3 linked regions of the Homo sapiens genome follow. The protein of the gene in region 2 purifies or fractionates together with the protein of the main gene of each other region. This does not show direct contact. Each region holds a gene or a part of one and is shown on either strand. Other genes may lie near its edges.

Region 1 (3,750 bases), on a different chromosome or scaffold from region 2:
CTTTGGGAGGCCAAGGCAGGAGGATCACCAGATATCAGGAGTTTGACACCAGCCTGGCCAACATGGCGAAACCCTATCTCTACTAAAAATACAAAAATTATCCGGGTGTGGTGGCGGGTGCCTGTAATCCCAGCTACTCGGAAGACTGAGGCTGGAGAATCGCTTGAACCTGGGAGGCAGAGGTTGCAGTGAGCTGAGATGTAGCCATTGTACTCCAGCCTGGGCGACAAGAGTGAAACTTCGTCTCGAAATAATAATAATAATAATAATTAGCTGGGCATGGTTGCACACCCTTATAATTCCAGCTACTCAGGAGGATGAGGCATGGGAATTGCTTGATCTTGGGAGGTGGGGGTTGCAGTGAGCTGAGATCGCGCCACTGCACTCCAGCAACAGAGTCAGACTCTGTCTCAAAAAAAAAAAGAAGGTCCTAGATGGAGGTGAGGCTAAAGGGTGGACATTCCTGTGAAGACACAGAATGTGTGGAGCTTCTGGATGGAGGTGGGGCCATAAAGAGGAATTTGTGGGTGGGCAGGGCCAGAGCTAGAGGTACAGGGTGAGCGTGGGGTTAAGGAGAGCTGATTTTGGGTGAGGGAGGGGCCAGAACAAGAGCTTCTCTCAGGGGATAGGGCCAGAAAAAATAATGTAGATGAGAGAGGAGTTTGGGGGCCCAGGAGGAGCTGTATTCCCAGAATCCAGACTTGCTGACCTGCTCGCTTCCCCAGCAGCTGGCCCCTGAGCGGTCAGTCTCAGGCCCACTGGGACCTCTGGGCTGCACGTCCCCGCCCCCAGCCCCTCTCCTACACACCATGCTGGACCTGGAGGAATTTGTCCCGCCTGTGCCCCCACCGCCCTACTATCCCCCAGAGTATACCTGCAGCTCAGAAACAGATGCACAGAGGTAAGGCCTGGTGGGGTCTTGCTGGGGGAGCTAAGGAAGGGGACTGGGGCTGGGCCTGGATTGCTGGAGAGAGGGATCTTTGTGGAGGGGGAATTATTTCTCCTACATTGACCCTCTTCCTCATCTGCCAGCATCACGTACAATGGCTCCATGGACAGCCCAGTGCCCTTGTACCCTACCGATTGCCCCCCTTCTTATGAGGCAGTCATGGGACTACGAGGAGACAGCCAGGTGAGAGCACAGCACGGCTTGGGGCGGGCTGGGGAGCCGGGTTGTAGCCTGGAAAGCTGAACAGGCTGTAGCCTCTGGATAAAGATAGTAACAGTGGTCAAGGTCTTTACAGCACCAGCATGCCCACTGTTGCCTTTGATCTTCCCTAGAGCCTGGTGAGGTGAGTGGGTTGGAAGCTATCATTTCTGCCATACAGACGTGGAAGCTGAGGCTGCACAATTAAGTGACTTGTACAAAGGGACAAGGCTGGTCTGGAATCTAAGTCTCCAGAGCTCTGTCTAGCACATGGGGGTGTTCAGTGTGTAGGGCTGAACCCTTGACCCTGTGTCTTCTGCAGGCCACTCTCTTTGACCCTCAGCTTCACGATGGCTCGTGCATCTGTGAACGAGTGGCCTCCATTGTAGACGGTGAGCAGGGCGTAATGAGGGGTGGACAAGGGCGGGGCTGCCAGGGATAGCTGGGGTGGGTAGAGACAATAGAAGGGGAAAACAAGGCGGAGTTGGTGGTTTGGGGACATAGGAGGGCTGTGGCAACTTGGAACCCTGGACTTATTTTTCTCCTCTGAGATAAAGCTGGAGGCACAGTGGCCCCTAGAGGCTGGGCTTGGGAGAAGAGGAACTGCCTGGGCAGGGCTAGGCCAGGCCAGGCTGGTGCTACACAGCGCCCCCTGCCGCCCACAGTGTCCATGGACAGCGGGTCTCTGGTGCTGTCAGCCATTGGTGACCTCCCTGGGGGCTCTAGCCCGTCGGAGGACTCGTGCCTGCTGGAGCTGCAGGGCTCCGTGCGCTCCGTGGACTACGTTCTCTTTCGCTCCATCCAGCGCAGCCGTGCCGGCTACTGCCTCAGCCTGGACTGTGGCCTGCGGGGCCCCTTCGAGGAAAGCCCCCTGCCACGGCGCCCCCCACGGGCTGCCCGCTCCTATTCCTGCTCTGCCCCTGAAGCTCCACCCCCACTGGGTGCCCCCACAGCTGCCCGCAGCTGCCACCGGTTGGAGGGCTGGCCGCCCTGGGTGGGACCCTGCTTCCCCGAGCTGAGGCGGCGGGTCCCCCGGGGAGGGGGCCGCCCAGCCGCAGCCCCGCCCACCCGAGCCCCGACTCGTCGCTTCAGCGATAGCTCAGGTTCCCTCACCCCACCGGGGCACCGGCCTCCTCATCCGGCATCCCCACCACCGCTGCTGCTGCCACGGTCCCACAGCGACCCAGGCATCACGACCTCCAGTGACACTGGTGAGCCCCCTCCCCGACTGCCCAGGCTCAGGAGAGGGTAGGCACTGGGAGTTAGGTGGCCAGTGATGCCCACCAGGATTGGGGCACAGTTGAGGTCCCTGAGGAGGAAGAAAGGGTGAGTTCACTCCTCTGGTAGACACTTCTCAGGTACTCACCTCCTAGGGACAGAACATCCATAGCTTAGCAGCTAAAAAAGGAGAATTTTTTTTTTTTTTTGAGACGGAGTCTCTGGCTCTGTCGCCCAGGCTGGAGTGCAGTGGCATGATCTTGGCTCACTGCAACCCGTTTCCCGGGTTCAAGTGACTCTCTCCTGCTTCAGCCTGCCGAGTAGCTGGGACTACAGGTGTGCGCCACCATGACCGGCTAATATTTTTTTTTTTTTTTTTTTTTGAGACGGTGTCTCGCTCTGTCACCCAGGCTGGAGTGCAGCCGCGCGATCTGGGCTCACTGCAAGCTCCGCCTCCCGGGTTCACGCCATTCTCCTTCCTCAGCCTCCCGAGTAGTGAGTAGCTGGGACTACAGATGCCTGCCACCACGCCCGGCTATTTTTTTGTATTTTTAGTAGAGATGGGGTTTCACCGTGTTATCCAGGATGGTCTCAATCTCCTGACCTCGTGATCTGCCCGCCTCGGCCTCCCAAAGTGCTGGGATTACAGGCATGAGTCACCGTGCCCGGGCAATTTTTGTATTTTTTAGTAGAGACAGGGTTTCACCCTTTTGGCCAGGCTGGTCTTGAACTCCTGACCTCAAGTGATCCACCCGCCTCGGCCTCCCAAAAGGATTTATTTTTTGAAACCAGTTCCACAGCTCTCAGCTTGGTCCACTTATCTGTCCTCCCCAAGCTTCAGCTGTCACTTGTTAAACATGTATAATAATAGTACTTCAGGCCGGGCACGGTGGCTTGCACCTGTAATCCCAGCACTGTGGGAAGCTGAGGTGGGTGGATCACCTGAGGTCGGGAGTTCGAGACCAGCCTGGCTAACATGGTGAAACCCTATCTCTACTAAAAATACAAAAATTAGCCAGGTGTGGTGGAGCGCGCCTGTAATTCCAGCTACTAACAGAGAGGCTAAGGCAGGAGAATCGCTTGAACCTGGAAAGCAGGGGTTGCCGTGAGCCAAGATCATGCCACTGCACTCCAGCCTGGGTGACAGAGACACACTCCATCTCAAAAACACAAACAAACAAACAAAAAACATGTATAATAACAGTACTTCAGCCATAGGCATTGTACTCGAAGATGCTGAGAAAGGAGACAGTGGCCGGGCAAGGCTGTTCACACCTATAATCCCAGCACTTTGGGAGGCCAAGGCAGGTGGATCACCTGAGGTCAGGAGTTCAAGACCAGCCTAGCCAACATGGTGAAACCCCCATCTCTACTAAAAATTGAAA
Region 2 (3,750 bases):
CTCAGGCTCACCGGGTGGAAAACAATTCCTACATTTTACTATGTACATTTTTATCCTATCATTCCATTCACCTTGCAGCAGTTTCATTTCATTTGATACATCTGCCAGCTATCACGAAAGATTGCTAATTTCCTATGATCTGCACATGCTGATATTAATGCTAAAAGAACAGAAGCACCATCAACAGGCAAGTAGATTTCATTTACTAAGGGGCTCCTACTATTTGCTTTATGCAGTATGTTTTGTACATACTACTTCATTAAAACTTCACCAAAAACTGCAAGTTTGGAATTATTGCTCTGTTTTTCAAATAAGACAAACCAAAGCACAAAAAAGTTGAGTAGCTCTGGCAATTATCCCTGCAGCTCCTGGATGGCAGAGCTGGGATCCAAATTTGAATCTTTTATATCTCCTCTGCATGCCATGTGAAATGAACATCATCTGACTCTATACCTTTCTTATTCTGAAAAAAAAAAAAAAAAAAGAGTAATCCTTTACATTTTAAACCAGAAGTCAGCTTTATGGGCTATACCACTTCTTGCAACTACTCACTTCTATCACAGTAGCAGAAAAGCAGCCATAAACAACATGTAAATTAATGAACATGGACATGTTCCAAGAAAACTTTATTTATGAACACAGAAATTTGAATTTCATATAATTGTCATGTCACACAAAAAAGCATTATTTTGATTTTTTTCAACCATGTGAAAAGGTGAGAAAGATTTTTAGCTTACTGGCCATAGAAAAACATGGGGCAAGCCAAATTTGGCCCATGGACTATGTATTGCCCACTTCTGATTTAGACTATAGCTGAGAGAGTGGGTTAAGTATTACTAGTTTGAGTGGGGTTTAGGCAGCCTGAGGCACCATGGCACCATGGAGAAAGTACTAAACTAGGGGAGCAGGTTCACTCACGGGCAGCCTTTAGCTGGTTCTGATGAGTCAGAGATGGTGGAGTATAGTGTTTAGAATCTGAGAGACCTGAGTTTAAACCCAGGATGTTCCATTAAATTTTAGCTCTGTTATCTGGACCTTTGGCTGTATAATGGAAATCACCATGTGTGCCTAACTGACAGAGATGCTATGAGGATTACATGAGACAATGTGGGTGAAACACTTTGCACAATATCTCTCATGTTGTTATTGTTGTTGATGATAATAATGTTGCTCTCAACTGTAAAATATTAGGCAAAAATTATCTACCACAGAGGGCTTTCGTGAGGACCAAGTCAGTCAAGAGATATGAGACTGATTTTGGAAAATTGATATAAAGATCTTTATAACTCTGAGGTAGTTTACAACCTCCCATTTGTTTAAGAATAATCTCCTCCCAGGGTATCTAGCACTTAATCTCCATGGACTTACTTTCTGGGTAAGAAAATGTGTCCCTTAACGCTGTCCATATTTGTCAAGAACTCAGGGAGCAGGTTCATTCTGACTATAGTCAAAGGAATTTTGGTTTCTGACTTATCTTAGAAACTCAGCTTCACCTAGAGGCAGTCAGTGGATCTAGAAAAGTGCCTTTGATCTTACTTTATTCTTCCTGCAGTTAGAATTCCTAAGGAGAATGCAAACACCCATTCTACATCTGAAATTTGAAGTCTAGGCAACAGTATGGACGTAATGATGTTTTTCTTCAGCAGGGTCAGATGATTATAATACTAAAGAAGAAAAGGGTCTATTGATGGTCATTCTTGTCTTAAGGAAACCTGTCCTGGGATTATATTATAGGCTGCCTGTGTTAAACCTTGTCCTTATAGCAAGTTCCCATATCTCATTGCAATCTCTTTTCACTAGCATTTACTTCTAATTATCAAATTATCTTTTCCTCTTTTTATTTTCTTTCTTTGGCTTACATTCCTTATTTTTTCATCCTGGTTTAGATCTCCATATTCCATAACCACAGATTATTATTAGGAATTTTAAAGTGTGTCTAGGTTAGTCTTTGTTTAATAGGTCCTTAGTTCAGAGGGATGTATCAATCGTGTACAAAAAGGGTAGCCTTTGCTATACCAAGGCGTTCTGTGATGTCTTAAGAGTGAAACAGAGTTTTTGATGTTTGCAAACTGAGCCACTTTTCTAAGAGTATTCTGAGGATTAACATTCCACAGAGGTCACTTTGGGAAAGGCTGGTCTATCCAACCCCAGCCATCAGGATAAATTCCTTCTAAAGTCTGAACCACAACCCAGGCCTCTTGACTCTCAGATTCAGTGTTCAATATCACATCTAGAAAAGGACTCTTGGATTCGTTTTTATTGCTTTGTGCCTGACAAGTAGGTATTTTAAAGTGTGCTGTGTTCTCATGAAGGAGATGGTTCTGAAGTATAGACTATAGGTAACCATGAGGTAACCAGGTATTACCTGTTCTGAGGTGAAGAAAGAGAAGATAAAACAATGGATTACAAAACTATAAAAACCATTCCTAACTTCCTCATTTGTTGAATGTTGACAGTTTACTTCTCCTCATCATATAGGTTTCAAACTTTTCTGGTTACCCATCTAATCAGTTTACAAGTTCCTTTCATATTTCTGCTACTAATAATAATATTTTTTTTAAAAAAATTACCATTATCTTTGCTTCGGCCCTGGCAATCTAAATCCTGGATTATATAATTACTTCCTAATTTATGTCTTTCTTATCAATCCCTCTTTTCTCCAAACTAGCCTGCACACCGTCATTCTATTTTCTCCATAAAACACCACTGCCACCATGTTGTGATTTCCCAGTTCAAAAACATTCAATAGCTCATCTTTCTGACTTTACCTCTCTTTATTCTCCAACAGGAGCCTACTCCACAGGGCTCAAGCATAGTTTGTGCATTTCTACCTCTTTGTGTCTTTACGTTATGCCTCCTGTTTGTACTATTCTCAGTTTATTCTTTGTTTCTTGAAATTCAGCCTTATTATAATCTTGCTCAAAGGTTGCCTCTTTCATGAAGTCTTCCCTTACCACTCCGTCTTTATTTAAACTTGCTTTCATTCAAACACTGGTGCAGTTCATTTCACACTTAATCTTGCCTTGCGTTTAATTTTTCATGTGTGTCTTATTTCCTCAACTGTAGTGAAAATTTCCTTTGTACACCTTAGTGTGTCTGGTTCAATACGATGTGTATTCTGGACGCTCAATTACAGGTAGTACAAATGATTCGATAAATCAGGAGGAATTACATCTGTTTATTTGCTCTGCTCCTCAGTATTGAATAAAGAATTCTTATAAAAGATGATTATTACTTTCTCCTGCAGTGAACTAGTATAGGATCGGATAGCTTTCTTATTTTCCTTGCTTTTTTATGTGTTTGTTTTAAGAAAATTCCTGTGTGTCATTCCAGAATCCATTAATTTATACAGAAAGAAAGAGACGTTGACTAGAAACAAGGTCTACTGAGTTAAAAGTTGAATATTCTATACTCTAGGCACATCATTCAATTCTCTTGACTTACGTGATAATACTTGCCTCTCTATACCTAACAAAAATATCGAAAAGAGGAAAGTGATTTTGCCCAAACAAAATCACTTTAAACCAGACAGAAGTGTTCAAAAAATATAATTTTTGCCAATTAAGGTCAGATTCTAGACCCTGAATTTTAAGTTTTCTATATTCCTCAGATGTACTTTGATTGTCGTAGTTCTCTCTGATTATCAAAACTGAACACCCCACTGTGCAAATTGCCCTGAGTGCCCATGTTTGGAGTCTCCTATAGCCTTGTTTAGGTACTTCTTTGACAGAAACAAACAGCACAGCGTTC
Region 3 (3,750 bases), on a different chromosome or scaffold from region 2:
CACCACATGCTCACCTTTGTACCCCAAGCAGCTGTTCCTCACTATACGTGGAGTTCCCCTCACCCTGCCGGGTCTGAGTCCACTCATTCTCAGACTTCTTTTCCTTTTGTGCCTTCATGCAGTTACAGCAGCCACAGGGGTCATGACTCTCAGGAGGTGTGTCTTCTGGGTATTTGTTTCTTCTAACTGCGTCAATGTAAGCTGCAAACAACAGCCCCTCCATTAGGTCTCCATCTGACCCTGAAAATCAACTTTGCAACCTGCCTTTCCTCTCTGGGAGGCTGCTCGTAAGCATGAGAAGGTAAGCATGATGGCCAGGGCTAGAGGCGTCATGCTGACTTTTAAGCACTCATACAAAGCTGAATAAACATGTTTCTCTGTGGTCCGTGGTCAGAAGAGACACTGCTCGTAAAATAGTATTTTTTGTTGCAGTGCCTCCCACCCCTAAAATTTAAAGTAGAGAGGAGTTCAATTCTTTTACACTAACAATTATAGAACTAATATATACCAAGGAACTTGGCTAGAAGATCAAGAGGGCGGATGGGTAAGATCTACTCCTGACCACAAAGAGGTTAGTTTAATGCAAGCTTGTCCAACCCGCGGCCCACAGGTGGCATGTGGCCCAGCACGGCTTTGAGCTCAATACAAATTCGTAAACTTTCTTAGAACATTATGAGGGCCGGGCGCGGTGGCTCACGCCTGTAATCCCAGCACTTTGGGAGGCCAAGGCGGGCGGATCACGAGGTCAGGAGATCGAGACCATCCTGGCTAACACCGTGAAACTCCGTCTCTACTAAAAATACAACAAATTAGCCGGGCGTGGTGGCAGGCGCCTGTAGTCCCAGCTACTCGGGAGGCTGAGGCAGGAGAATGGCGTGAACCCGGGAGGCGGAGGTTGCAGTGAGCCGAGATCGCGCTACTGCACTCCAGCCTGGGTGATAGAGCGAGACTCCGTCTCAAAAAAAAAAAAAAGAACATTATGAGATTTTTTTTTGCAATTTTTTTAAAGTTCATTAGCTGTCATCAGTTAGTTATTTAGTCGTCAGTTAGTGTATTTTATGTGTGGCCCAAGACAATTCTTCTTCCAATGTGGTCCAGGGAAGCCAAAAGATTGGATACCCCTGGTTTAAAGGGAGAAGATTCAATAACAACACCTGCAGAATGTAAAGAGGGTCATAAGCAATACAGTCAAAAGGGGCAGAGCACTCATGTCTTCTCTGGAGGACCTGAGAAAGGCTTTAACAACATCTTTCTTCCGCTTAACATCCCTCAGCTACCTCCACCCACTGCTCCTGGACAGTCTTCCTCTAAGTCGGCCTGGCTAACTCCGACGCATCCTTCTTGTCACCATTTGTAACACTTTCTGCAAGAAACCTCCCTTGACAGCCAGTCTGCGTTAGGTACCTTGTAAGTGTGCTCTCCAAATCCCTGACCTTGCTGTGTAGCCCAGGCGTTTTGTATTATTCGCCCGTTTTGTAATTGGCTGTTCAGTCGTCAAACTCTCTCAGTGGGCTGCGAGTTTTGTGAGCTAAGGGACCCATGTCAGTCAAATCCCCACTGCAGAATCAGCATTAGGCGGGGCACACAATAGGTATTGGATCAATATTTTTTGCCTGACTGTAGGGTGGAAAAGGCTGGTCCTGATGCCGGCTGGAGCGACATGATCAAACAGGGACTGAAGGTCAGGTGGCCCAGTTAGGCGAAAGATAAGGGCCAGGTTAGCAAGCTGCGGAGAGACCGCAGCACCCCACGGGCCCTCCAGTCACCTTGGCATGGGCGGGGCCTGACAGCTGCGGGCCCTGGGCGGGGCACGGGCGGGGGCGGGGCTGGGGGCCGGAGGCAACAAGTCGTCACCGGTGACTCTGGGCTCGCGGTCGGTCCCCAGCTTCCCTACCCCATCCGCAACCCTACTCAGGCTCAGCATCTTTTCACAGGCCTCTATCCATCACCTCAGACCCAGGATCTCAGCCCTTGTGCGTCTTCAGGATCCTCATCCCTGATCTCTCCCGAAGGCCGCCCTATCCCTCCTTCAGGCGGGGACCTAGTACCTTCCGTCCAGCGCTCCCCGCTGCCCAGAGTCGCCGCCATATCGGTTCCCAATCAGCAGGTCCGCCGAGCCTCCCCCGTGCCCGAGGCTGAAAGAGAAGGGGGCGCGGAGCGCGGGGCACGCTGGTCATTGTAGTCCAGTCCATATGAGCTCCCGGGGCACTGGACTACAACTCCCGGCAGGCTCTGCGCCAGAGGCCGTGGGAGACGCAGAGAAGTGCTCGACCTTCGTCAGGAGATCTGTGGAAGAGTGCTGCTGCCAGCTGCCAGCTGCCTGCAGCACGGCTCTTGGCTTTTCCTCATTTGTAGAGTTGGGATAGTGGCTTCGGCCCTGCCTAACCCTAGGGACATCCAAGGAGGGGCGACTGAAGTCCTGCCTGGAAAGGGCTTCGCAAACTATAGGCTAGAGGGTGACAGTATGACTATTATGCTCCTCAGGGATGTCTTTTTGAAGCATACGCTAATGCCTGTTCTGTGCAGTCAGTGGTAGGCCCTGGAGATTCAGAGATGGGTTTTGGGGATGCGGAACCCAGCCTTTGGAAGCTTGAGTCAGGAAAATAGAAAAGTGATGTAGATTTATGGGGTTGGAGGGCAATCTCAGTATGTCCCTACTGCCCCAGCTCCTCAGGCACTGGACATCAGAGGGTATCGGGGTGGAGAAAGAAGACATGGAAAGGTATTGGGGCCGGCATGAAGAGCCTCCATCTTTGCTGTTCCTGTCCTTCCTCCAACCCATCCTACTCCAACACCCCTCTGACACTTTTCTCCTCTCTTCCAGTCTAGTTATCTCTTTAGCCCATTCGTTTCTTTTCTGAAGGACCAGACATTGAGATTAGTAAAAAGGAAATGAGGAAATAAATATTCTTGCTGTTCCTCATCCAGGTATGGATGGAACCTAGCAAAGAATAAAAGCAACACTTTCTTCATAGGTGGATGGCTACAGTTCATCCCCAAACAAAAAATTACCCAGAATTAACTGAGGTCTTACCCAAGAAGACCAAATCAATCATGATATCAACTAGCACCTACTTAGGCAGTTGGGGAGAGATGTATATTCCTGGACATAAACTTGGAAGGGTAAAAGCACCAAAGGGCATGCAGTTCCAGCCCTTGCCTACAGTCATGGCCCTGGCATCACTGACATTATGCCCACTTAAGAACTCAGAGAACGGCCGGGCGCGGTGGCTTATGCCTGTAATCCCAACACTTTGGGAGGCCGCGGCAGGCGGATCGCGAGGTCAGGAGATCGAGACCATTCTGACCAACATGGTGAAACCCCGTCTCTACCAAAAATACAAAAATTAGCTGGGCATGGTGGCGTGTGCCTGTAGTCCCAGCTGCTCGGGAGGGAGGCTGAGGCAGGAGAATCGCTTGAACCCAGGGGGCGGAGGTTGTAGTGAGCCAAGATCGCGTCACTGCACTCCAGCCTGGGTGACAGAGTGAGACTCTGTCTCAGAAAAAAAACAAAAAACAAAACTCAGATAACAAGGCCTTTCAAGTGGAAAAAGCACTGGTCTAGAAGTTGTATAGGTGTTATATTAATAGCTGGGGTTTTGCCACAAATCATTGCGTGATCCTGAACATCTCCTTTTTCCTTCTTCTTTGGCCTCAGTCTCATCACCTATAAAACGAGAAGGTTGGATTCAATTAGTAGTTTTGTTTGTTTGCTTTTTGAGACAGAGTCTTACTCTGTCGCCAGGCTGG

Evidence for each region.
Region 1: the proteins of FSHR (region 2) and ENTREP3 purify together in Homo sapiens (affinity purification with mass spectrometry; 2 studies listed by BioGRID and IntAct, with this or other methods). This does not show direct contact.
Region 3: the proteins of FSHR (region 2) and DNAJC18 purify together in Homo sapiens (affinity purification with mass spectrometry; 2 studies listed by BioGRID and IntAct, with this or other methods). This does not show direct contact.

What each region holds. Positions count from the first base shown.
Region 1 is NC_000001.11:155,248,884-155,252,633, reverse strand, and holds part of ENTREP3 (protein ENTREP3), read left to right. Parts: intron 1-725; coding exon of another isoform or gene 726-728; coding exon 729-901; intron 902-1,032; coding exon 1,033-1,132; intron 1,133-1,469; coding exon 1,470-1,539; intron 1,540-1,812; coding exon 1,813-2,358; intron 2,359-3,750.
Region 2 is NC_000002.12:49,147,876-49,151,625, reverse strand, and holds part of FSHR (follicle-stimulating hormone receptor isoform 1 precursor), read left to right. Parts: intron 1-3,750. UniProt on the Homo sapiens protein: G protein-coupled receptor for follitropin, the follicle-stimulating hormone. Through cAMP production activates the downstream PI3K-AKT and ERK1/ERK2 signaling pathways.
Region 3 is NC_000005.10:139,437,358-139,441,107, forward strand, and holds the start of DNAJC18 (dnaJ homolog subfamily C member 18), read right to left. Parts: upstream 2,169-3,750; 5' UTR 2,089-2,168; coding exon 2,049-2,088; intron 202-2,048; coding exon 15-201; intron 1-14.